Regions from separate parts of the Homo sapiens genome. Here regions 1, 2, 3 and 4 are each reported to be linked to region 5. Evidence: microRNA targets listed by miRTarBase, many of them from high-throughput screens and not tested one by one. Region 5 holds a microRNA gene; each other region holds the end of a gene's coding sequence.

Region 1 (4,121 bases), not on the chromosome of region 5:
GAACTGTTGAAATCAGAAAAGAGAGGTGGGTGGATGGTGGATCCGTTTGGTTTGATTCTGTGCAATACAGACGGGACCCCAGGAGCCTTTGCTGAGCTGTGGTTGAAGGGCATCAAACAGTCTCCTTTTCTAATGACACTCCCTTTTATAGATTGGCCCGGATCCTCGTTCGCCTGCCGGCACTCAGGCTGATGAGCTCCAACATAACAGAAGAACTTTTTTTTACTGGTCTCATTGGCAATGTTTCGATAGACAGCATAATCCCCTACATCCTCAAGATGGAGACAGCAGAGTATAATGGCCAGATCACCGGAGCCAGTCTATAGCGCAAACCACACACCTGCCAAGGAGCAACAGAATCCTTCCAGGACCGTTCACATACAAAGAAAAGTAGTGGTATTTTGGTATGTGCAAATATTTCCATATGTTAGCCATTTCCTGTCTGGTTTCTCCTTATCTGTTAATCCCAGACAATAGCAATTAAAAGACTAGTAGGATCCTTTCCTGACATAAGAAATGTTTTAATGCCTTTTGATGAAGCAGCAGATTTTGGAACAATCTTTTAACTCAATTTGTATTTAGAAATTCTCAAAGGGCAAAAAACAAAAAAAAAGGTTTTATAATGTCAGAGACTAGTATTAAAGAAAACTGAAAGAACCTGAGAGAATAGTATGTGTGTATATATATATATAAAAAAGTCCTTGGAATTATAGATACTAATTACCAGGGTAATAATATTAGCACTTTCTAAGCACTTATCAATGTGTAACGTTAGCAACATCTTGCCTGTGGGCAGGGCAAATGGAAAACTGTGTATGTCTTTTGCCGAAATGCTAATGATTTCTGTGAAAACTCACTAGGGTACAGGAGACAATCATTTATGTTTAAGAAAAGAAGGCATCATTCCTAATTGTGTGCACATGTTGTGGAGTTGAGCTGAATTCTGTGAATGGAAACGTGGCTCATTTGCATCATGCAGTAAGTGGGAGTGTGGTAGCACAGTCGGTGGTGACCCAGTTCAGAAGCTTCTAGCCATAGAGCAGACACTTGTCAGGTTCCCTGACTACTTGGTCCTGGTCTCTGATGGGCATCTGCAGACTCCTCTAGAACCTGGGGTTCTCCTTTGATGACTGGTTATCTGAATTGGATTGCAACTAGTCAGACATTAACTGCCAAATGAGATGTACAGTTCCTCCAGCAAGTGAAAACATCCCCAAGTCACATCCGCCGCTCGTGGCAGATGGAGCCTTGTGACCAAAAAGTGCAAGGTGGGCATTTTGAGCTCTTGACAGTACTTCCAATACAATTGGGGGTGCTTGTGTGTTTGTCCAGATGGAGGAGTGTGGCCTTGGAGTGTGAGCGTTACCTTCCCAGGGCTTTCCACTCCAAATGCCCCCTTGAAAAGGGCTCGTGTTTCTGCAGCTCCATCATAACTGTGAGGCTGGATTGGGGCTGGGCAGGAGCCTGCTGCCGCCTGGCGAGAGTGGTTAGGGCCTGGTAAAGCTGGATGGAAGGTTTCAGGACAATTTCTTCCTGTTGACCTTAAATACCAGAGATTTTAAAAATGTGTATAGACTCAGCATCTCTGTTGGCAAGTCTGTTAATGTTACCAGCACACTGTGCACTTTGGTTCCCCCAGGTGTGTGCCAGCCGACCACCCCGGAGCATTTTAAATGCAGGCTGCTTGCTCCTTAAAAACAACCCTCAATTTCCAGGGTGATAGTCTTTCTCCTCATAAATTGTAGCAACCAGAGTTTACAGCAAGAACAGTATGCGCTTAAAAGGAAGTTATGTCTAACTTCAAACACCCGTAAATTCCCACGGATGTGAATATATAGCAAGCTTTTCCTGTTTGAGAACAGTGGCATGTGGAAGACCCGGTCAATTGCTTTGTCTTTTGCTTTTTAAATAGTCCAGATTAAGAAAATACACCCTGTTGGGTTAAATTTGCCTCTCTTGATTTGTTAATCAGATGATATCCAAAAAGATCCCTGGACACTCCCCTGACTCACAGGTGCTCTGATCTGGCTCAGGCTGGCGCCACATGTGCTCCACAGGGGTGCAGTCTGGCCAGCTACAGACGCCCCTGTGGTGCCACATTGGACAGAATGGAAGCTGCTGCAGGCTCAAGGCAGAACAGGATGCTTGATCCTGAAGGGTTAGCAGCACTTTACGCAAGTCAGTGTTAGTAGGGTAAGTGGGAACAGTGTTTCCAACTTCTAAATTCTTGTTTGGATTTAATTATATCATTTTATAATTCTTGCCTTGGCAGCAAATTTTGGAGAGTAGTGGGAGTGGCCATTATAAAATGATGGAAAGGATTTAATTTTGCCAGCTTAAAGTAATTTTTACTTTTCTAACCCTGATGTGTTTTCAGTTTCAAAATTAAGACAAAAAACCAGCTGAGACAATGGAATTAGGGCAGGTTTGTTTCATTTCTGCTTGTGAAGGCTTTTAGTAGCAGGCATCCTGCAGCTCAGTGGTGCCTCTAACACAGATTGTTGCCTGCCTTCCGTCGTTTTGATCCTTGAGAGTGACCATGAGGGCCATGTTGCAGTTCCCTGGGAATACAAGCATAACAGCTTTCAGATCCCAGTTCTTGGTGTTGGTGAAAAGGTCTCCACCAGCCCCTCCTCTCATTCCCAGGTCATTCAGTGGCAGCCAGTAGGCTGCTTAGACTCAGGCTGGATAAGGAAGTGTTGGGCTGTGGTGAAACAACCTTGCAGAAAACGTGATTTTGCTTGGAAAGGTGCTGATTCTAACCTGGTCCTGCTCTTTAAGTCCCCTTGCTGGTGATGGCTGATTCCAGGGACTGTTTTGGGCTTTGAACACCTCTTGGTTGGTTTCTGAGATCCTCTTGGCCTTACTTTGAAGTGGCCTTTTCTTTAAGGATCATGTCCACGTAACCTGTATTCTTGCTGCTTTAACTCATTTCAAGCCTCTGACTGCAGGTCCATTTCATCTCCTGTCAGGTTGGTTAAGTAAAGTCAGCCCAAAGTCAAGAATTACTTAAAGAGATGCAAACCAAATATTTGGGCTCCAACTTTCACAGGGCTTATAGCCCTTATTAGCAGTTTGTGAAACTTTGGGTTTCATGAAGTGAGACCTGTCCTCTGGCTACTGAACTCCATGGAGCCACGTTCATGCTCCCTCTTCTACTGGCCTGGCTGCTCCTCCCTCAATGAGGAGAGGCAGCTGGCTCAGAGAGGTGGGACAGACACATGCTGTCATCAGTTAAGTGAGCTCTTTTCCAGAAGTATCTCAGATAATGTTGGGTTAAGACAGATAGATGTTGAAAATGGTGGAGATCATTACACATTAGCATAAAACAGGACAGGAAGAGATTTTTTGAAAGACCAAATTAGTTGAGCAAGTAATACTTTTCAAGTTACTCCTGGAAGGTGTTTTTAAGGAAGTGTGTTACCTACCATACTCTCCTAATTTGACATTTCTGTGTCCTGAGGAGTTACATTTATTGTCTAACCCTTGCCATAAGGCTGTGGTTTGAGGTTCTTTTGCTGTTCTGGGCTTTATATTTAATTTCAGGTGTAGTCACTTCTAAGATGTGTAATTGCCCTCAAGAGGGACTGATTTTTAGCTTGTCATTGTCAGTATTGAATGTGGACTCTTCTGAGGCAGTTAGGACACCAGCCATGGTGTTAACAGTGGATGCGTTAGGCTCCTTAATCTCAAGGCAATATCCACGCTACACACATACTTATTAGCTGTCTTACTTGTTTGGGGGATAGTTACGGCAAGGAGCAAAAAATTCTAAGGACTCTAGCTGTTTCTAGTGCTTTTACTTTCATAGTCCTTTGAGGACATTTCCTGCAGAGCACTCTTGCTCACAGCCCGCCCTCTGCAGGGCTTCCAGCCCCTGGCCGCAATCAGCAGTTCATGCCACATGTGTACATCCATGTTCTGGGACCTGATCTCATTGGAGTCCAGAAGCTTGTTGCCCACTTTCCAGTGTAAATGACTTTATGTGCAATGGGGTCATAGGTAACATTTTAACTCTTTTCTTAGTCCAGGTCATAGGAAGTCTCATCATCTGACAGCCACTTTTCTCCCAGGGAAGGCGGTGCCCACTGGGCCCTGGGAATGCCTGAGCCAGCAGAGCA
Region 2 (4,121 bases), not on the chromosome of region 5:
GGTCCTAATGGCACATTTCTACCTCTTCTTGGAGCCAGTCAAGGGAGGGTGTCATAACAAATAATAGGCGTAGGCCTTGGGCGGGGCAGGTCTGCCACCAGTCCCAAGGCTGTCCTTTTCAGGCTCTGCAGGTGAGGCACTTGGCTTTCTGGACCCCGAGATCCTCATCTGTAAAGTGGCAAAAACGATAGAGCCTTTATCCTACATTGTGCCCTGAGGGCTGGCTGGCTTAGTGAGTATCAAGTGCTTAGCACAGTGTCTGGAAGACAGACAGTGCCCAGGAATGGGTGCCTGCAGGCAGTAAAATTATTCTCCCTTTCACTCTTTAAGAGGTGATCCTTTCTGAAGGAGTCCTCTATCTTCTCTCACACTACAGTAGTTGATCTTACCTAAGGATGGGAAAGGGTAAAGGAAAAGGGAAAAAAGCAGAACAGGTAGAGGAGAATATAGGAAGAATCTTGGCCCCCGCCCATCGTCACTCAACACCTTGAGGGCCTGCTGTGAGCTAGAATTCAGGGCTGGGAGTCAGGCTGTGGGATGCTCGACAGGTTGCCTTCAATTCCTCCTCTCTCTCCCCCTTGCTCTCCTAGTCCCCCAGTTCCCTGCCAACCTCATACGTTCTTTTTGGTCTTGCAGAATGTGGGGCAAGCCTGGGAGGTCATGAGCACCCAGACCTGAGTGATGGCAGCCAGCATTTAAACTCCTCTTGCTATCCATCTACGTGTATTACAGACATTCTGCTCAGCTACAAGCACCCCGAAGTCTCCTTCAGCATGGAGCAGGCAGGCGTGTAACAAGAAACAGAGAGTGAGTGTCACCCTGGCCAGAGCCAAACCAGCCCTGTGGCCCAGTGCCTGCTCCCAATCCCATCAGGAGCTTCAGCCCATGTGTTGTGGTGGCCAGTGCAGTCGACAGTACCACGCCTCCCCTCGTGGCCTTCACAGTTTCTTGCTTTTCATTAACGACGCTGCTAGTTTTAGGGCGCGAGGTAGGGGTGGGGGTGTGCAGAAGAAATGCTAAACACAGTCTCTTGGTTCGGTTATGGGAATAAGACACAAGACTCGCCGTGTGTTACAGGTGCTCTAGCCTTCATAGCGACAGAAGTGAGCTACGGCTCCAGAGGATGCAGGTGACCTCCGGTCAGCATAATGAGGAAAGGAGGAAGTCCTTAAACTCAGTCCTAAAAGACAAAACCTGGCAGGAAAATATGTCCAGCCATATTTTTTAAGGCCATACAGAAGCAAGTGGCAGGATATTCCAGATTAGGGAAATGTGTGATGAGAGGCCCATGGTAGAAAGAATGGGGAAATTGGCTTGTTTGGCTGGAGTAATGCAAAGAGTACACAGCAGGCACCATTGGTTGTATCTGGAAAATCCTTGACAGAAGAGGCCTGATGAAAGGGAAGCCACTTGGCAAATCCACATCAGAGCCTCAGTATGGCAAGCTACCTGAACACCTGAGGGAAAGTAAACCCGTTGCATTTTTTAAAAGGTTTTAAATGGAATATTTGAGCCTTTCTCTTTTCAAACTAATTCTCCTCTGTGTCTGCTTTATTCCAGGTTTTGTGTACAGCTTGGGAATGAAAAGGTTGATTGTAAACCCACAGTATCTAGCAGCGTTGTGCCAAATTGCCCTTGTGTTTCTCTCCACCCAAAATATCACAGCTGCTTTCCTCACATTTGGTTCATCCGTGTGCTGTTCTTTTGGGTTCTGAGAGGGTTTTGCCATGTTTGCTTGTATGACCAAGTCACCAAGGAAATAAACAGGAAGGAAATCCATGTTCTCCATCTTTTGTGAAAGTATATTTGAGTTGGTGGTTTTTTGTTTTGTTTGGGGGTTTGTGTTTTGTTTTGTTTTTGGTATGTTTTCTTCCAGAGGTGATATACTTTCTTTTTTTTCTTCCTTTCTTTTTTTTCTTTCGTTCCTTTTTTGAAACAGGAGAGCAAAGCAGTTAGAGTTCAGAGGCCAGCGGCCTCAGGGCCACTCCCTCCCTAGCCTTCATCAGCAGAGCACCCTCCATCCCCCTGCATTGCTCTTCTGTGAAAGCAAATACTAAAGGATGCCATCCTCTGGAATCCTAATGGCAGGCAAAGGGAGAGAGGAAGGGTGACGGCTTCTGGCACTTAGAAAACAAAAAGAACAAAAAAAGAGAAACCCCCAAGCCTGGAACGCAGAGAGGTCTTTACTGCTGGGATCCACGGAAAACATGTCTGTCCTAGCCAAGATCATATGAAGAGTTTGGCACGGAGGCTGAGAATGACCTGGCATAGATGGTTTGCCAGTTAGGATGTCTCAATTTGAGCCTTTGCTTTTGGTGGATAACTCAGCTCCCCTCTTGTAACCTGGAAAGTTGGTTGCCTTTATCATCCTGCTGGTTTTATCCATGGACTGAACACCCAACAGCAGTGCACTATGCTTTCTATGGCATCTTTCATTCTCATTTTATATTGTGCTATAAAAAGGATTGTTTCTCCATATATATATTATATATGTGTGTATATATATAATATAATATATGTGTATATATATATTATATATATAATATATAATATAATATATTATATATATATTATATATATAATATATATATAAAATATATATATATATGCTCTCCTCTTTCAGCCTCTTTGTCACAGGGAAGAAGTGTAGGAGGTTGCCTTGGGCCCTGCCTCTCTCCTAACCTCCTCTTCCCCACTGGGTACCCTCAGCCCCTATATTTTAATTCTTGATCATGTAGAAATTGTTTTTGGTAAATGTTGATATTATTGTTATTATCATTATTAATAAATAAAGAGAAAAGGAATTTTTGTTTAAATGAGAAATGTTTAACCAGATTCTGTTCTATTTGAATTGTGACTTGCACCTTTTGTTCAAAGTATTTCCTTTAGGCATTGTAATTGTGAACAGCTCTTACTTGTGCCAGTGACAGATGCAGTGGTCTCCTTTCCCCAGTTGAAGCAGTGCATACGCAGTAGCTATTATTTGTGTTATCTTTATTTCTCTTCATTGTTAGAAACCAAAGTCTTCTCTGCTGGCTGGGGCTGAGAGAGGGTCTGGGTTATCTCCTTCTGATCTTCAAAACAAGAGAGAGACCTTGAATACACTGACTCTTCCACCCTTTTTTTTTCTGGGAAAGGAGAGCAAGAGGTCCCGAGTCCCCTCCTAGTCTTTCATCCTGAATTTGCACAGAGGAAAGCGGGTGCCCGGCATGGCCATCCTGATGTTGCTGGCGGGATCCCCATGCACCTTGTCCTTCTCCACTGATACTGGCAGCTCGGCTCCTGGACCCAAGATCCCTTGAGTGGAATTCTGCAGTGCAAGAGCCCTTCGTGGGAGCTGTCCCATGTTTCCATGGTCCCCAGTCTCCCCTCCACTTGGTGGGGTCACCAACTACTCACCAGAAGGGGGCTTACCAAGAAAGCCCTAAAAAGCTGTTGACTTATCTGCGCTTGTTCCAACTCTTATGCCCCCAACCTGCCCTACCACCACCACGCGCTCAGCCTGATGTGTTTACATGGTACTGTATGTATGGGAGAGCAGACTGCACCCTCCAGCAACAACAGATGAAAGCCAGTGAGCCTACTAACCGTGCCATCTTGCAAACTACACTTTAAAAAAAACTCATTGCTTTGTATTGTAGTAACCAATATGTGCAGTATACGTTGAATGTATATGAACATACTTTCCTATTTCTGTTCTTTGAAAATGTCAGAAATATTTTTTTCTTTCTCATTTTATGTTGAACTAAAAAGGATTAAAAAAAAAATCTCCAGACTCAAGTTGCTAAGACCTTTTGTCCTGCCTTTTGTCCTTCCTTTTGTGAGGCACTTACTTACAACTTGGTTACTTAGTTGGACAGCAGGAAGTTGTGTAGATAGGAGCCTGATTGTGTTCTTAGGCTGATAGATTATTTGCCTGTGGTTTGGAGTCTAGTTGGAAGAAGCCTCAGGTAGGTGGGAGCTGGAGCAGTGGAGGCTGGAGAGGTCTCCCAGGCTAAGGGTGGGGCTTTGAGTGACTTAAGAAACTCGCATTCTCTAGAAGCCTGAACTCTGCTTCACACTGTGTCCCTGGGCACCCAGCTCGGACTCTGCCCTGTCAGAAGGGAGCATTTGAATTTGCT
Region 3 (4,121 bases), not on the chromosome of region 5:
ACCTTGTGCAAAGATCAAACTTTGGGCAAAGAGTTCAATTCAAACATCAGCTATTACTAGTGTAGCTGGGCCACCCTACCCCACTGGAATTATATGTCTTGGGTATCACTCAGTTTTAGTACCTTTAACCTGGACACGTTACCCAGATACAATTTCAAGGTAAACATGCCTGCCTGTCTTCCTAGTTTTTTTTTTTTTTTTTTGCCCAGCAGGAGTGCAGTGGCACAATCGCAGCTTCGAAATGCTAGACTTAAGCAATCCTCCTGAGTAGCTGGGACTACAGGCATGCGCCACTGCACCCTGCTGATTTTTAAATTTTTGGTAGAGATGGGTTTTTTTGTTGTGCAGAGTGGTCTTGAACTCCTGGGCTCAAGCAATCCTCCTGCCTCAGCCTCCCGAAGTGTTGGGATTACAGGCATGAGCCACCACGCCTGCAGGTTTTAACATGTTAAGCAAAGCACACACCCGCAGCAAGTGGGAAATCCAGCTTCAAGAGAATTTCCATTTCTTACCATCTTTTTCCACTTTGTCCATCTCTCCCTGCAGCCCTCCCCCATCAAGCATCCATTGTATGAAATGCCCATACTACCTTTTTCTGTGTGCTTTACCTACTATGCTTACTCTTGAAAATTTCCTCCTGGGCCATCTTAGAAACTTATTATTCAGTCTGCATTTCCATTTTGCTTACCTTTCTGTGACACTCATCCAATGGCCTATGGCCGTGTTTACACGGATTTGATATGCTTTAGAAGGCAATTACTTTTATTCATCATTGTCTCCCCTGGGCCCAGCTAGCATGGCACCTGTTACATAAAAAATTCATGTTTTCTGACTGTTCAGTAGATGCCATTTTAAGCAACAACTCAAAGGGCCTTTTTTCTCGGGATTATTTTAAAACATGTTTCATTTATCCTCTAGTATTTCAGACGATGTCAGAAAATGAAAAATGGACATTTACTTTTTTACCTAAAGCCTATCACTTTGCAGGTCATTACTCTTCGCTGTGAATGAGGAAAAAAAAAAACAAAAACTCTGTGGTATGTTAAGAGCCAAGAAACTAGTGATTTTTTTCTATTACCATTTACAACTGGTATGTTTTACAAACGATCACATTTTATATATCAGCTTACCTTTTATATGTTATTTATTTATTTATCTTTTTGAGACGGAGTCTTGCTCTGTTGCCAGGCTGGAGTGCAGTGGCGCGATCTTGGCTCACAGCAACCTCCGCCTCCTTGTCTCAAGCGATTCTCCCGCCTCAGCCTCTCAAGTACCTGGGACTACAGATGCACACCACCATGCCCAGCTAATTTTTGTATTTTTAGTAGAGACAGGGTTTCACCATGTTGGCCAGGATGGTCTCCATCTCTTGACCTCATGATCTGCCTGCCTCGGCCTCCCAAAGTGCTGGGATTACAGGCGTGAGCCACCGCACCCGGCCACATTTTATATATTATTTTGCATAGCCTTCATTGTCTTAGCAAAGTCAGAAGAAGTCCAATAACATAATGTCATTAAATTAACAACAACGACAACAACAACAACAAAACAACCCAGGATGGGGGCAGTGGCTCAAGCTAGTAATGCCGACACTTAGGAAGGCCAAGGTGAGTGGATTGTTTGAATCCAATTTAAGACCAAACTGAACCCCTCTATTTAAAAAAAAAGTAAAACAGTAAAAAAATCCTTGGTTTTCTAGATAAACTGCCTGATACCATCACTGAAATGATATCATTTTGTGTGTGATATTAATTTAAAAAAGACATAAACTTTGGGTTCTAAAAGGTGACTAAGGAAAACAGGCACTTTAAGATCACACTGATATGGGTATCAGGATGGGGAGAAGAAAAATAGAAAATTGGCATTTACATTTTTACTAATAAAAAAAAGCATCAATAGCTAAGACTTATGTAATGCTTACTAAGTGCCTGCACGTTTAACCATAAACCTATAAGACAGGTTCCAATATATTCATTTTACAGGAGAGGAAACTGGGCACACAGAGGTTAAGTAATTTGCCCAAGGTCACATAAGAAATAAGAGTTGAGATTCAAATAGAGGTAGTCTAGCTACAAGTATCATGTACTTATCACACTGCACTATACTATACTGGCAAGAAACTAAGTTGCTTTCTTGAAGAAATCCCTATTCAAATGGCATGCATATGATTCACTTGGAAAAATTAGACTAATCAACATCTGGCTGAAACCTTTGTTTCAGAAATAAGCCTCCTATGTACTTTGAGATGATTAACAGTATTTCTGCATTACTGTAATAAACATTTGTCAAAAAGAGCAATCACCTCAGTCATCATACAGACTTCTTTCCCTTCATTAAAGACTTCTAAATATAACTCTTCTGTATCAAAGAACTTACAAATGTCTCAAGAAAGTAATGGTGTAGCAGTGTAAGAGAAGTAAAAGTCTGCTAGGGGAAACTAATGAAGCATTTTCCTCATTACACTTTTGGGTTGATATATTTCATTAAGACAGAACTAGTTCTGTTTTGCTTTGCTTTTTAGTGCTTAGTCTGAGAGGCAATGCGAGAAACCAAAAGTCTTAGGAGAAAAACTGCTTTCATAATTTCCAGTGTAAGCCACAAAGAAGCTTTTCTATAAAGGCTTGAAAGCTTGAAGAGGTGACAAGAGCAAGCTGTATTCAATTAGACAGTTCAATAAATATGCAAAAATAAAAAAACACTTAGCAATCATGAGTATACTGTTTGTATTCTGGAAAAAGCAACATATTTCATGCTTTGAATATTTTCTCTTGAGAATAGTTTTAAAGTTATTTCCTTTTGTAACATTCAAAAGTAAAACACACATATATAATTCCATCAAGGATTCTCTGTATGATTAACATTCTGTACAAGTCAAACATGACCACATCTATATTGGAAAGAGAGCACTGAGAAGCAACAGCAGGAGAATGCATCACCTGTGCCTGTTTCAGGATGAACAGTTTTGTTAAGTTCAGCAGATGAATGTAACAATGACCACTTGTTTCCAAATACCCAGATGTTTCTTACTGGCTCCTCACTAATCAATAACACAAGTGCTAAGTTCTAAGTATTTAAAAAAACAAAAGACTGCAGGTGACTCCTTCTCTCTGGTCCCTTTACCAAAGCTCCAAATCACTTATGACATTAATTACAATATTCTGCACTCCAAAAAAATATGCAAACACAGGTTTGCTAAATTTTAGTTACTCAGTGAACCTACTAAATTTTAAAGTAGAAAAAAGACTTACATTCTCATGACACAAACTTTAGTTTTCACATTCACCAAAACATTTTAAAATCACTCAAACATGAGAATTGAAAATGTGTGTGCTTATTTGGGAGAGGATTACTGCATTTATTCTCCAGAAAAAAAGGCAGACCTGAGGCATCACATTACCGGAACATTTAAATATGATGACATGTTTCTTATCTTCTAAACTTCAACGAAAGCTGCTTGTACAAACTATTTAATGCATATCTGCCCCATTAAACAAGATATTTGATGTAGCAGAGAAGCCAGAAGCTGAGTCACTTCATTTCTTTCTGTTGCCTCCAGTTGCCAGCATAGTTGCAACTCGCATAAATATATTTAATGTATCCATGTAGATACTCAGCATCCTAGAAAAGAAAATTATGCCCATTATATATGATGCAATTCTAATAGTGATGTTGAATTCTTAATATAGAAAAGAAGAAAAATACTATTTGTCTTAGTGATATAAAATGGAAATTAAAAATAAGATGTTTAACTGCCAACTAATGAAGTACTAGACTAGAAAATAGTTAAGGTCTTCCTTTTGGCAGACTCATCTTTTAAATGTTAAAGAGCAGTTTAAAAAAATCATTATTTTATTCTCTGACACTCTGCATATATCAACTTGCAAAGAAAACTAGGTGGCAGACAATGAAATAATCAAAACAAGACCAAAGAAACACCTTTATAAAAACCTGTTAGACACAAGTCTAGCATTTTTTAATATAAAAGACCCACTTCACCCCTCTAAAGAAAACTTCTACAAATCTGTAAGCTTTACAGTACAGCAACTTTTTCTTCCCCCTAAACCATTACATTAAGTTTTATTTTTAGATAAAATCAAATTACTTTAAAAAAATGTGACAGA
Region 4 (4,121 bases), not on the chromosome of region 5:
CTTTGTCTTGCCATGTCTGCCATGCCTGCCATGTCTCACTCTTCAGTGGAGGATGGCCTGCTACATATGAGATAACTGGAAAACAGTCTTCCTGGTCTGACATGGATTACTGGGAGAGATTAAAAAGATTTGGTGAGGGACTTGTTTCAACAACTATTGAGCACTCACAACATACCAGTCACCTTTCCAGGTAAAGGGAGACTATCAATGAAGCTGAAAAACATGCAACAAAATTTCAAATAGCGTTAACAAGTATGAATAAAATAGGACTCAGTAAGAAGTGACAAGAGATGGAATACAGACCAGCTGGAGAACTGAATGCAAAGAAAGGATCCAGCCAAGCAAAACATTAGGTAAGAGTGAACCAAGTAGCAGAAATATCAAGTGAAAAGGACTTGAGACAGAAATGAGGCCACTGTGGCTAGAGCAGGGCAAGCAAGGGAAATATGAAAAAGTCACAAAAGGTATCAAGAGCCAACTAATCATAAGAATTTCATATAATGGGAAGCCATTACAGATCTTAACAAGGAAATCACCTCATCTCTTCAAATCCTAAAGCAATTACCTTTCCTACTGTATGGAGTATGGATGGGATAAGAGCCAGACGAATGAGTAGGGGCAAGAGGGAGCAGTTATGAAGGAACTGAGAAATAAAGGTAGCCTGCCTAGGGTGGTAACAATGGAGAGGAGGCAAAGCACAGCTTCGAAGAGCCCACAGGACTTGCATATAGACATGGGCATGAGAGAGAACACAGTCAAGGATTTACATGTCTTTTAGTTTGAACAAGTAAGTATAAGTTAGTACCAGTTAGTGGAATGGGGAAAGGTTGAGGGAAACAGGTTTGATTTAAAAAATCAAGACTTACGATAGGTAAGTCTGAGTCTTATGAAAGGTTAAGATGGAGCACTCAACTATGCTGTCAAACTCTGGTGCTCAAAGAGGCAGACCAGGTAGACAACATATAAACAACGATGTAGAACCTATCAGAAGATCTTGAGTAACAGCAGATATTTTTCTTTAGACAACAGAGCTAGAAAGTGCAGCCCAGATCTGAAGTCAAGAAAAAAAAGGAGGAACTGGCAAATACAAGAGTCAGTAAGGTATAAAAAGACCCTGCCGGGCACGGTGGCTCACATCTGTAATCCCAGCACTTCGGGAAGCCGAGGCGGGTGGATCACGAGGTCAGGAGATCAAGACCATCCTGGCCAACATGGCAAAACCCCGTCTCTACTAAAAATACAAAAATTAGCTGGGCGTGGTGGTGTATGCCTGTAGTCCCAGCTACTCAGGAGGCTGAGGCAGGAGAATCGCTTGAACCTGGGAGGCAGAGGTTGCAGTAAGCTGAGATCGCACCATTGCACTCCAGCCTGGGTGACAGAGCGAGACTCCATCTCAAAAAAAAAAAAAAAAAGACCCAGGAGTGTAGTTTCATAGAAGCTAAAAAAAAAAATCAAAAACCAGGAAGTGGATGATTATTGAATGCTGCTGAAGGTTTAGTTAAGATGAGAACAGAAAAGTGACCACTACTCTTGAAAGTTTTGTTAAATTCTACTGTAGGATTCTACCATTACCAAGTGTGGTAAGCAGACTAATAACTAATGGCCCCCACAAAGATGTCTACTTCCCAATCCCCAGAACCTGTGAATATGTCATCCTATATGGCAAAAGGGACTTTTGCAGATGTGATTAAATTGAAGATCTTGAATTGGAAAGATTATCCTGGATTATTCAGGTGAGCCCGATATAATTACAAACCTCCTTATAAATAAAAGAAGGCAGCAGGAGATAGAGTCACATTCAGAATAAGAGATTAAAAAACGGACACTGCTGGACGTAAAGAAAGAGGAAGGAACCATGAGCCAGGGAATGCAGCTGGCTTCTAGAAGCTAGAAAAGGCAAGGGAACAGATTGTCCTGTAGAGCCTCTAGAAGGCTTGCAGCTCTGCTGACACCTTAATTTAAGCCCAGCAAGACCTACTGTGGACTTCTGACCTCCCTAACCGTAAGATAATAAATTTGTGTTGTCTTAAGGTACACATTTGTGGTCACTTGTTACAGCAGCAGCAGGAAACCAATACACAAAGGACTGTACCTGTACAGGGTCATTAGACTTTTATGAAACCTAAGGAGAAATTCCCTTGGTTCATAAATAACAAGCAACTTCATGATTCCAATCTGATGCGTACAGAACTTTATTGAGGGTAAATCAGACTCTGATTAGAGTCTGAGCAACTGCTGGTACAATGACAACACTGCTGCAATCCAGAGGTTCAGGCATGTAACAAGCTGACACAAAAATACTACCACTCTATGAAAGCCAATATGGATCACCAGTTGGCTCCCCTGTATTTCTCTCGGCCCTCACAGGTTGTCACAGCCTACAGTGCTTTCTTCTGGTTATCACAAATCCTCAAAAATTAATCTTATTCTTTGGTTGACTCATATTGCTTTTAAGAAAAGTTATCAAGGGTCACTCACAGGACTGATCAGGAGAAAAAGGAAGTTGCAGAGATGTTATTTATTCATCTGAAGTATTTCCAAATTACTCATTTAATATGCCCTCTTTGTTTTAAAAAATAAATTACAAGTCTAAACTCAGCTGATCCAATTTATTAGAAGGTTTTAGAAGGGCTTTCTGAATGCCACCCAAATTTAAAGAATGAGGTAAAATTCCATACTTCTTAAACCACTGCAGGACTATAGTAATCCCATTTTTATAAAATCCATTCTATCTATCTGTATATACATACAGAGATGCCCTAACATGCATTCATGGTCATTTGATTTTAATAGTTTTTTGAGGAGTGGTAGGATTTTAAGTGATCTTTCAGCTTACTGCTAAATTTCAGTTGATTTTTTTTTTCTTATAACTAGCATGTATTATTTAAATAATTGTTTAAAAAGGCATGTCAAGCACTTCTATCCAATCTGGGAATAGAGAAGGTAAATGAAACACTAGTAAAGGACATAAGAATTTCAAAAATTCAGGACAAGTAACTGAATCTCAATATTATAAAATAATGTTTACTACAGATTAATTGGCTTACCTTTTGCTATGGTTATGATACAGAAAAACCTTCTGGCTATTTCCACTTATAAAACTCACATTAGTAGTTTTTCCCCAAAAAAACCAAACATTGTTTTGTTTTAGAGGCATTTTATTTAGACAACTAAAAACAATTAGATGTTCAGAGGCAGTGTACAATGAACGAGAAATCAAACCAGTTACTTTATCATGTATTCCCTCTTCTTTACAACTGAAGCAAAAAAAGAAAAGGCATTCTGCTTTAAGATCAGAAAAAATCAGCCAATATAGTTTTCTTCTCCATATTAACATAAACAGCTACAAGAACCCTAATTGTAATAATAGAAATTGGATGTTGGCTTGTATATATTCATTAAAAAGATAACAGGCCACTGTACTATAAGAGGATAACTCCACCTCCCTTCATCTGACACTTGAGTTTTCACTTACAGGTAACACCAAGTTAGTTAGTTGTTCCAGCACTGGAGCTAATTCATTTTCCTCATTATTTACTGCTGTTTCTGCCTTAAGCAGACAGTAACTCTGGAAGGCTGATGCTTTTCTCTGCTTGCTTGTTTTAGTCAGTTGTATACTAACTGCACATATGATTGACGCTCAGGCCTTAACATCAGGAGCTGAAGGAAAGATGCAATCTGAATTCTCTGAAGCAATTTCTTCTATAAGTAAAAAAAAAAAAAAAAAAAAAAAGTCACATTAGTCAACTTAATGAAAGAAAGAAGCAAATCTACATTTCTGTGTAATGAAGGAATGAAAAAGTGTTTGTAAAGCATACTGTGGTAAGGGAAAGAAGAGAGCAACTGCACATGCCACTAACAACTAGACTCATGTCATTGAAAAGGCAAAGAAGAAAGAGTTCATGTGTTTTATCCACTAGATTCTCTTACACCATAACTCAACCTCCAAGGGTCCCTTTCTGGCCTAAATTTTCAAAGACTCCAGCTATATAACAAACCCGGAATTAAAGTCATGTCTTCGAAGGATCTGGCCCTCTCTTTTAGTGATTCAAATCCTAATATTTAGTGCTATTTAAAGCAAAACATTAACCATCAACATTGTTTTAGCAAGAAGGTGCTTA
Region 5 (4,121 bases):
CTAGGCTACAAACCTGTACAGCATATGACTGTACTGAATACTGTAGGCAATTATAACAGAATGGTAAGTATTTGTGTACCTAAACATATATAAACATAGAAAAGCTACAGTAAAAATATGATATGATTTTGTGGTGGGACAACTGTGGGACAACTGTCATATATGAGGTTCATCATTGTCCTAAACATTGTTAGGCAGCACATGACTGTATAGACATAATAGAACTTATAGGAAAAGTTATAGAAAAACTTATAGAAAAAGACCTTGATGAAAAATACTGTCATATTCTTTGGATGAATGTTGCAATTAACTCCTTTTAGATCATAACTTGACTGTACAGATTGTGCAAGATTGTTTTCTGGGAACAGCTGTATATGAAATGTTGATTCTCAGGGAGACACCTAGACACCTGAATTGCAGCAGACATTTTATGGTGTTGCTAAGTTGCTGGTCCTTCTCATCAGTAGCAGGCCTACTCTCACTGTCACATATCTCCCACGGTTTTTTTTTTTTTTTTTTTTTTTTTTTTTGTAATTAACCAAAAGTGAAGGCTTTTATATCAAAGACTCAATTGAGGAAGCAGTGGCCTTAGTCATTATTGGCATAATTGCTTTAGTTTGCTTATGGATCTTAAAACGTTTATGACTATATCTGCAAGTAAAAAAAAAATTCAATAATTAAAAACCTAAACATATCGAGTGTTTATTTTCTCTTTTTGCAAAGGTATATTCTAAACTCAATGTTCTTCGGGAAATTTTCCAATTAAGGCTCTGAGTATTGATATTTGGGATTTAGAGAATGGCTTTCTATGACCAGAATGGTTAGTGATGAGATTTTATGTAAGTAGGACTGGGTTTTTCAGGGGGCCTTGTGTAACTTGCCATCAAGAGTTGGGAAAGGAGGCCCTGAGCAGTGCAGCAGAGCTATGTAAAGTGAGAGTTTGGGTCTTGGGACCAGGTAGCCTGGGCTCAAATCTGCTCTCACACTTAGCAATGTGGTCTTGAGCATGATTCTTCACTTCCCCAGGACTCTGTTTTCTCTTATGTAAAATAGGAATAATATTTATTTTCAATGATGGGGGTAAAAAGTACTTAAAGGGACTAATTATGTAAATTGCTTAGAACAGGCCTGGAATATACAGCTAAATGCTGTGTCAACTGTTGTTGCTGATAATGGTGTTGACTATGACAAGTATTAAAAGAAGAGATTTGACTAGAGGTACTTATATTTTGAATGATCAGTGACGATGTTAGGGTTGAGAAAGAAAAACAGTAACTGACTTGAAGGTTTTCAATGGTATGTAAGTGTGAGGTCATTTCACCTTTTATTTCTCTGCCAGGTAGAGTGGGAAACCAAATTAATCACTCCATGATCTAGTGACTAATCTATTGCCTTTGCTTTTAGTTCCAAATAGAAAGCTGTTGAAAAGTTGTTGTATTACACCTGCATAAAGGTTATCCTGAAAACAGAAAAATGCATTAGACTTTGTCAAAACTGGATTTGAAACCTAATTCAACTGCTTGCTGGCTGTGTGACTTAAACTTGTTGAACTTCAGTTTCTTCCTCTAATATAACTATTAATTTTCAGAGTTTCCATGAAGATATTTGTAAAGTGTTTGTCATAGGCACTCTATACATTAATTACAGCTATTATTGTTAGATCTTGGGACACCCAGCACGTGACAAAAACAACAGCAGACCCTGGTGCCTGGGAGGACTTCATGGATCCAGCAGCAACCTGGAGTGGTGCTCCTCTGAAGAAATCCTACTCGGATGGATATAATACAACCTGCTAAGTGTCCTAGCACTTAGCAGGTTGTATTATCATTGTCCGTGTCTATGGCTCTCGTCTACCAGACTTTAAATTCCTTAAGGGCAAGGACAGTGCCTTACTCATCTTTGTATTCACAGTGCCTAATCCGGTGCACATTGTAGGCCTCATTAAATGTTTGTTGAATGAAAAAATGAATCATCAACAGACATTAATTGGGCGCCTGCTCTGTGATCTCCATGGGCTCAGCTTGTCCCCGCCAGTTGCCAACAACGTCCAAGCTCTCTTCAGAATGCTTACTCCTGAAGCTTATTCCTGTCTTCTAATTCTTTTGTTGAGGACTTTTCTGTGTAGTGCAATGATAGCAAATACACTTCATCTCAAGTACCATCTCCAATTGATTGATAATGCCTGCCCTGATTATGTTTTATAACAAGATTCTGAAACCAGGTCTTATCTCAGTGTGAAAGACATTTATAACTATTTAGTGATGTCTGCTGAGGGTCGGAGAAGGGGGAGTAGCAGCACAAGTGCCTCATATGTCATATTTGCTACTCTGTTTTCTATGAAATACTTCATTTCTATGCCTGCATTTTGGTCTTAGCTACTTGCTGATGTTGCATGGCTGTTGCTGCTACTGTAATTGCTGCTAATTGCTCCCTGGGTTGGACCAGAGTGCTCATTGTCTGAACAGAAACCTCATCCTCACAGTCTGAGGTTTGCTCCTGTGGCTGATATTTAAAGTTTTCCCCTTTCAACTTTACTCCAGCTATCCCCTTACCTGCACTGACAGGTAATCCTCCACCGTCCTGTTCACCTCTCACCAGGTTCATATTTTCTTTATCTTATTTATTGTACTTAATCATTATTTTGTGAGAAGCTTTTCTGATTGTAGATGTGACAACCAGAATACAAGTTAAAACCACTTATCCAGCGCCTTACAGTGAATCATTTAACATGAGAAAAAAATTGAGTGTGTTTGCAGACCATGGGGCAGAAGGAATTGAGAAGGGAGTCATTGTAGATGTGAGAAAGAGAGAGATGATAATAGATGGAAGATGATCTTGAAAGATGATGCAGGTGAAGCTGGAAGGGTGAAATTTATGGCTCTAGAACACATGCAGGTGGAGGGTTAGCCTTAGGTAAGTGGAACTACCTCTTTGCTGGAGCACAGAGATAGGGATAGGAGTAAGGAAGAGGACTTGGCAAGGGTGGTGAAGATTTGTAATTGTAGAGGTGGATGATGGGGAGGAAGCTGACCAGGAACAGGAATATGAAGACAAAAGCTGCTGGAACAGAAATACTAGAGGGCTAAATATGAACCAGAGTCCCTAAGGAATATTCAGGCCAAAACGCTGGAGTGAGACCATTAACAGGAGAGCTTATGGTATATCAAAGTAAGAAATGAGTTTGAAACTGGGTTAGAAGCTCAGGAAAATATGAAGTGGTTTTGGGGCATTGTCACTAGCAGTATTTGGTTGCCTTGATTGATTGAGGGGTGGACAGCTAGCAAGAGACGAGTTACACAGAAATGGATTTAAGAATCCAAACTAAGGCCGGGCGCGGTGGCCCACACCTGTAATCACAGCACTTTGGAAGGCCAAGGTGGGCAGGTCACCTGAGGTCAGGAGTTCGAGACCAGCCTGACCAACATGGTGAAACCCTGTCTCTACTAAAAATGCAAAAATTAGCCAGGTGTGGTGGCACATGCCTGTAATCCCAGCTACTCAGGAGGCTGAGGCAGGAGAATCACTTGAACCCAGGAGGCGGAGGTTGCAGTGAGCCGAGATCCCACCCACTGTACTCCAGCCTGGGTAACAGAGTGAGACTTCATTTAAAAAAAAAAATCCAACCTGGACATGGAAGGAAGTAAGGTCAGGAGTGGCCTCAGTCTGGGCCAAAAAGAGGCTTTAATGTGAACAAGGTGAGTGCTGAGTAATTGGAAAACTGGAGTGATAGGACCTGTAATCAGAGTAGACTTTGGAGTGTTAGATTTCAAAACTGGAGTGGTTAAGATACCTGTGAAGCTAGGATGTCAGATGATCATTTACATGACTATTATAGTAACCCAGGATTATAGTAGAAGCTAGGCTTAGAATGAACACTGGGCCAGGTACAAAAGGCTTCAGTGACTGTGAGGAATGACTTGGAGGTTGGCACATGTTAACTGCAAATACTAGAGAAGAAAGGCTGTAGTGGGATAGTAGATGAGCCTTAGAAGAGTGGGGGGATCCAGGTGATTCCTTCTTTTATTGAGTATTTGCTCTATGCCTGACACCTTGCTATATGCCATCTGTTCCCTCTTTTGGGTCTGTCACACTTCAGGAGTGGGAGAATGCGCAAGAATTCC

Evidence for each region. The annotated mature microRNA hsa-miR-374b-5p reads AUAUAAUACAACCUGCUAAGUG and lies in region 5 at 1,778-1,799, shown strand. An mRNA with a match to its seed (bases 2 to 7 or 8) in the 3' UTR can be bound and repressed. Matches are read on the target gene's strand: a 7mer-m8 pairs with bases 2 to 8, a 7mer-A1 pairs with bases 2 to 7 and ends in A, and an 8mer does both.
Region 1: the mRNA of NR2C2 is a reported target of hsa-miR-374b-5p. Seed matches in the 3' UTR shown: 7mer-A1 at 2,301-2,307.
Region 2: miRTarBase lists SIK3 as a target of hsa-miR-374b-5p. Seed matches in the 3' UTR shown: 7mer-m8 at 2,483-2,489, 7mer-m8 at 2,530-2,536, 7mer-m8 at 2,558-2,564 and 7mer-m8 at 2,569-2,575.
Region 3: the mRNA of GHITM is a reported target of hsa-miR-374b-5p. The part of its 3' UTR that is shown has no 7-base or 8-base seed match.
Region 4: the mRNA of STRAP is a reported target of hsa-miR-374b-5p. The part of its 3' UTR that is shown has no 7-base or 8-base seed match.

Annotation. Positions count from the first base shown.
Region 1 is chr3:15,042,683-15,046,803 of GRCh38, forward strand. It overlaps NR2C2 (nuclear receptor subfamily 2 group C member 2), which reads left to right. Exons shown (of 14, transcript NM_001291694.2): 14 at 152-4,121. The coding sequence ends at 326. It also overlaps a transcript of MRPS25 not described here. Among named protein-coding and RNA genes, the nearest start is that of MRPS25, 21 kb to the right of the region's middle.
Region 2 is chr11:116,843,069-116,847,189 of GRCh38, reverse strand. SIK3 (SIK family kinase 3) reads left to right here. Exons shown (of 25, transcript NM_001366686.3): 24 at 637-807; 25 at 1,561-3,788. The coding sequence ends at 794. It also overlaps APOA1-AS. Among named protein-coding and RNA genes, the nearest start is that of APOA1, 7.5 kb to the right of the region's middle.
Region 3 is chr10:84,151,761-84,155,881 of GRCh38, reverse strand. GHITM (growth hormone inducible transmembrane protein) reads right to left here. Exons shown (of 9, transcript NM_014394.3): 9 at 2,314-3,618. The coding sequence ends at 3,534. Among named protein-coding and RNA genes, the nearest start is that of GHITM, 14 kb to the right of the region's middle. RefSeq lists an enhancer at 57-570.
Region 4 is chr12:15,902,498-15,906,618 of GRCh38, reverse strand. It overlaps STRAP (serine/threonine kinase receptor associated protein), which reads right to left. Exons shown (of 10, transcript NM_007178.4): 10 at 3,141-3,702. The coding sequence ends at 3,641. Among named protein-coding and RNA genes, the nearest start is that of DERA, 6.8 kb to the left of the region's middle.
Region 5 is chrX:74,216,265-74,220,385 of GRCh38, reverse strand. It overlaps MIR374B (microRNA 374b), which reads left to right and starts at 1,768; the gene lies at 1,768-1,839. The region is part of intron 5 of FTX (FTX transcript, XIST regulator); the gene reads left to right. MIR421 (microRNA 421) reads left to right here and starts at 1,925; the gene lies at 1,925-2,009. MIR374C (microRNA 374c) reads right to left here and starts at 1,837; the gene lies at 1,768-1,837.